2 separate regions of the Homo sapiens genome follow, and region 1 is linked to region 2. A link means that fine-mapping ties the variant in region 2 to the expression of a gene that starts in the linked region. Tissue or cell type: whole blood. Region 2 holds a variant in brackets; the other region holds the start of a gene. All regions are shown on one strand. Distances are from middle to middle.

What was found. PIP is the estimated chance that this variant, and not a neighbour inherited with it, causes the effect.
Region 1: FCGRT starts here. The variant in region 2 is fine-mapped to the expression of FCGRT in whole blood (TOPMed, PIP 0.97).

The regions. Positions count from the first base shown.
Region 1 is chr19:49,511,608-49,514,285 of GRCh38, reverse strand. It overlaps FCGRT (Fc gamma receptor and transporter), which reads right to left and starts at 1,625. Exons shown (of 7, transcript NM_001136019.3): 1 at 1,536-1,625; 2 at 813-899; 3 at 153-404; 4 at 1-75. The coding sequence starts at 885. RefSeq lists enhancers at 1-115, 2,043-2,605.
Region 2 is chr19:49,490,307-49,492,984 of GRCh38, reverse strand. RPL13A (ribosomal protein L13a) reads right to left here. Exons shown (of 8, transcript NM_012423.4): 4 at 2,409-2,510; 5 at 2,121-2,206; 6 at 1,886-1,945; 7 at 1,438-1,560; 8 at 677-1,256. The coding sequence ends at 1,170. SNORD33 (small nucleolar RNA, C/D box 33) reads right to left here and starts at 2,368; the gene lies at 2,286-2,368. SNORD34 (small nucleolar RNA, C/D box 34) reads right to left here and starts at 2,078; the gene lies at 2,013-2,078. It overlaps SNORD35A (small nucleolar RNA, C/D box 35A), which reads right to left and starts at 1,810; the gene lies at 1,725-1,810. RefSeq lists enhancers at 370-609, 1,775-2,378. The variant T/C (reference allele first, on the strand shown) is at 1,122.

The DNA of each region.
Region 1 (2,678 bases), 21 kb before region 2:
CGAACTTGGCGGTGGGCACCGAGGTGTTGTCAGGGCCCAGTTCACAGCCCAGCAGGCCCTGCAGAGTGTAGGGACCTGGGGCGCCCAAACACAGGTAAGCGGGGCCCCGGAGCATGGACCCGGCCCCTTGCCCCTCCAGACCGGAATCTCACCTTTTCCCCCCAAAGCTTTGAAAGCTTCCAGAAAGAGCTTCTCCTTGATCCTCAGATCTGTGGTCTCTTTCTCCCAATACCAGGACACCTGGTTTTCCCAGACCCAAGCTCCACAGGGCTCCGCCTCGCCCCGCAGGCTATTGTAGCTCAGGTACTGCTGCGGGCCCAGCCAGCCGGACACCCAGAAGGCAGGAGTCCCCGGGGCAGGCGAGGACACCGCGGTAAGGTGGTACAGGAGGGAGAGGTGGCTTTCTGCAGACAGAAACAGAGCTGAAGGGAGCACACGGGCGGGGAACTAGACTGCAGTGGGACAGATACCCAGGGAGGGAGAAGAATCTATTATGGAGGGAGGGGGACAGATTCAGAGAGAGGGGACAGAAACCCGGGGGGGGGGGGACAGAGACCCAGAGAGAGAGAGACAAGAGACCCAGAAAGAGAGGGGGACAGAGACCCAGAGAGAGAGAGGGAAACAGACACAAGAGGCGACAGGTGGTTCCCAGCCTCAGGCCCAGCAGGAGACGTTGAGAAAGTTAATTGAGCGGAGAAGGCAGCGCCAGGGGCTCGCGGGGAACTCGGGTCCCGCTGGCTTCGCCCCTGCCTGCCTGGGGCCGCCTCCCGCCGCCCGCCTGCAGCAGGGCCCTGGCCCGGAGCGGCCCTCACCTGCGCCCAGGCTCCCAGGAAGGAGAAAGAGCAGGAGCCCCAGCGCCCAGGGCTGAGGCCGCGGGACCCCCATGCTGAGAGGACGACCTGGGGCGGGAGGGGGCACGTGACTCCTCCCGACCCCCGGCCCGCCCCTTCCTCCCGGGACACCGCGGGCACGGCCGGGACCAGGACGCCGAGGAGGGGCTCTGCGGGCTCGGTCCAGACTGACAACAATGCCCTCCTCGTACCTGAAGAACTTTCACCCCTGAACTGGATCTCAGTTGGTTAATTAATTACAGACACTTGATAGGCTGAGAGTCCCGGCCCCGAGCTCCGCCACGCCCCTTCCGCCCCCCTCAGGCCCCAGCCCCTCCTCCCTCAGACCCCGGAGTCCAGGCCCCCAACCGCTCTTCCCTCGGACCCAGGAGTCCGGGCCCCCAACCGCTCTACCCTCGGACCCAGGAGTCCGGGCCCCCAACCGCTCTACCCTCGGACCCAGGAGTCCGGGCCCCCAACCCCTCCTCCCTCGGACCCAGGAGTCCAGGCCCCCCCGGCCCCTCCTCCCTCCTCCCTCAGACCCAGCGTCCAGACCCCCAGTCCCTCCTCTCTCAGACCCAGGAATCCAGGCCCCCACCCCTCCTCCCTCAGACCCAGTGTCGAGACCCCCAGCCACTCCTCCCTCAGACCCAGGGTTCCAGGCCCCCAGCCCCTCCTCCCTCAGTCGGGCCCTGGTCGGCTCACGTTCCCTTCAGCCTCGCTCCCTTCCTGCCTGCGGCCCTGGCCGGCTCCTGGCTCCCGTGACTGGAGACCCCAGTTCCTCTCTCACATCCTGTGGGAGGCTGCTGCTCCCTGACTCCAAGAACATCCAGCCCCACCCCCCAGTTGCAGGGCACACCCCAGGCCCTAGGCCCAGCCTGTTTGTTTCTCAAAACGCTTGTGGTTCTTCTTTTTCCTTCTCTGTGGTTCCCGTTTTTTACTTTGAGGGTGTCTGCCGCTCAGGGAATTCTTGACAAAACTGGGAAAGGAACTCGATGCCTCCGGAGTCCACAACTTGGAGGTCTCTGGATCCTCCTCCTACCCCTCTGTATCCCCGTGGCCTTCCCTAGCGCTCGCTGTTAATCAAAATCTTCTGGAAGCCTCCTTAGTTCCTCCTTCAAGCCCTTCCCCCGGCATCCCCTTAAAAAATTCCTGCAGGTGCTCTTTAATATCCTTCTGCGGGCCGGGCGCAGTGACTCACGCCTGTAATCCCAGCACTTTGGGAGGCCAAGGCGGGCGGATCACGAGGTCAGGAGTTCGAGACCAGCCTGGCCAATATGGTGACACCCCCGTCTCTACTAATAATACAAAAATTAGCTGAGCGTGGTGGTGGGCCTGTGGTCCCAGCTACTCGGGAGGCTGAGACAGGAGAATTGCTTGAACCCGGGAGGTGGAGGTCGCAGTGAGCCGAGATTGCACCACTGCACTCCAGACTGGCAACAGAGCGAGACTCCGTCTCAAAAAAAAAAAAAAACCACATCCTTCTGCTAGGACTTCAGTGACCACATGGTCCCCATACAATGCTGCCTCACTCGAAGGCCCCTCCAGGCACCAGCCCCCGCCCACACTCCTGCTACAAAGCTTCCCATACACTTATTTCATTGTGGTAAAATATTCAAAATATTTACCCTTACTGTCATTTAACACATTTACAGTGCTGTGCAACTGTCACCTCTATCCGAGTTCCAGAGCTTTTTTATCACCCCAAACAGAAGGTCTGTCCCCGTTAAACAGCCGCTGCTCCCAGACCCCTGGCAACCATTCATCTGCTTTCTGTCTTGATAGATTTGCCTATTCTGCACATTTCAAAGAAATTGAATCATATAATATGAAGTCTTTCCTTCCTTC
Region 2 (2,678 bases):
TCCACTCATCTTTCTCTGGGGTAAGGTTGTACATGTAAGTATACAGGTAACAAACAGTTACTCCTGAATCTTGGCATCCAACCGCAAGGACAGCATGAATCTAGCTTCCTTTACTTCACAGCATGTTTACTTTTAGTGTTTAGGCTGTTTAGCGTGGAGACCTGGGTATGACGTATTACTGAACACGACTGCTAGACATCAGTAAAATGGGAACGGGGCCTGCTCCAGCAAGCTTTGACCAGGGACATTTTATGAAATTGCTACCTAGTACTAAATGCTCTGTATCAGTGCCCTTTCTGGGATTCAGACTGGCAGATCTAATGGGTTCTCTTAGTGCATAAAGCCTAGCGTTATCTGTTATTCTAGTGCTTATCATTTGCAAAATGCTAGTCTCTACAGACCGCCGGGACTACAGCAGCCTGGCAGCAGGGCATGGGTCCATACTTTGCAGCTGAATTAGAATGAGACAGCTTTACATTAACTAGGAAGCACCAGGCACTGCTGGCCACATTTTATGTCTTTGGTTTGTAAACGGTGTCTATAAAGGATCATTCAATTTATAGCAAGTTACATATATTCTGTATATTAGCACAGCCCATTCTACCCTCTTCAAGCTCCTCACCCCCCATTTGCCAGGGGCCTGCCTCCACAGCAGACACAGTGCAAAGACGCCAGATTTCTTTAAAAGCAATTTATTTCTGATTACAAAATACAGGTGAGGAGCATGGGCGATGCCTGTAACCCCTTGGTTGTGCATCTTCCCAGTCTATTTCTGCTTCTAGAAATACCCTGTGTACAACAGCAAGCTCATGCTGTCCCCAAGTGCTTGCACATTCTAACAGCTGCAGAGTATATGACCAGGTGGAAAGTCCAACAGATGCCCCACTCACAAGATAGGGCCCTCCAATCAGTCTTCTGGCTCCCTTTCACTCATAGTAACTGGTTGCTCTTCCTATTGGTCATAGATAAATGACACCTGCACAATTCTCCGAGTGCTTTCAAGCAACTTCGGGAGGCAGTGACTAAGACCCTTTCCTTGCTCCCAGCTTCCTATGTCCCAGGGCTGCCTGTGGCACCTGGACTGCTGCTGCCCCTGGGTCCCGTACATTCCAGGGCAACAA[T/C]GGAGGAAGGGCAGGCAACGCATGAGGAATTAACAGTCTTTATTGGGCTCAGACCAGGAGTCCGTGGGTCTTGAGGACCTCTGTGTATTTGTCAATTTTCTTCTCCACGTTCTTCTCGGCCTGTTTCCGTAGCCTCTGCCAAGAATAAGTGCAGGTGGTGGTGGTCAGGAGGGGTTGCATTGCCCTCATTACATGGACTGCATCCCACCCCAACCCCGGCTGGTCCTTTGCCAGTTAAGAGTACTCTGTGAGCAAGGCACCTGCCAGGCCTGTCCAGGAGTGAGATGCCCCCCTCAGCACCAGCCCCTGGCCTCACCATGAGCTGTTTCTTCTTCCGGTAGTGGATCTTGGCTTTCTCTTTCCTCTTCTCCTCCAGGGTGGCTGTCACTGCCTGGTACTTCCAGCCAACCTCGTGAGCCAGGCGCCCCAGATAGGCAAACTGCGGGGGGGGGGGGGGGGGGTGAACAAATGAAGTTGTAAGGATATCTAAGCCCCCACACCCTGAAGAGCCGGAGCTGTTGAGAGCTGGGAGGTGACTGACAGCTGGGCATATCATAATGCAACTGTTCTCTGCAGGCCTGTTAGAAAAGCACCCACCCAAGCCTCCTGGCATCAGCTAAGCCATTGGCATTGTCGCCATTCCCACAGGGACATCCGCAGACCATCGTGAGATAAGGACATCATCTGCCAGGCTCCAGGTCCCCAGGTCCCTCAGCAGGCCTGAAATCTCCCAAGTAGATGGTGCAGCGTAAGCTGGGACTCACCTTTCTTGTAGGCTTCAGACGCACGACCTTGAGGGCAGCAGGAACCACCATCCGCTTTTTCTGTTAGAGAAAGAGAGGGGCTTAAGAGCCCGGGAGGGACAGACAGGGAAGGAGGTCGGCTGGACTGGCGTCTCAGCCAGTGCTGCTTTCATGAGGATCAAACAATGTAGGTAGTTGCGGAACATCATGGACGCCACAGGTAAGGCCGCTGCCTGTGGGGTTTGGCATAGCTCACCTTGTCGTAGGGCGGTGGGATGCCGTCAAACACCTTGAGACGGTCCAGAGCGGCCTGGCCTCGCTTGGTTTTGTGGGGCAGCATACCTGTTGGGTGACAGATAGCAGGCCCAGTCAGAGGGCCTCATAAGGATGCCCACCCACCCCACTGAGGTGGGCCCATGGGGTGGCCTCAGATGGTAGTGCATGTGGAGTCATCTCATGGTCGGGAAACTCGAATGTGAGTGGGAGAAGTTCTCATCACCGGCCGCCTGCCCGTCACCACCTGCAGTCCCCACGCTCTGCTCACCTCGCACGGTCCGCCAGAAGATGCGGCTGGGGGCCCGGAAGTGGTAGGGGCCTCGGGAAGGGTTGGTGTTCATCCGCTTGCGGAGGAAAGCCAGGTACTTCACTAGGGAGAGGGGAGAGTGTGAGGCCTGCCCAGTCTACCAGCACCCCCAAAACCCCACTTCCAAGGGCCTTCTCAGAAACCCCAAGTAGCCTCTCCCAACACGGCTGCAATTGCTTTCAGAGCCTCAACACCCCACAGGGAGACCCTCTCCAGTGCTCCTCCCAGGTC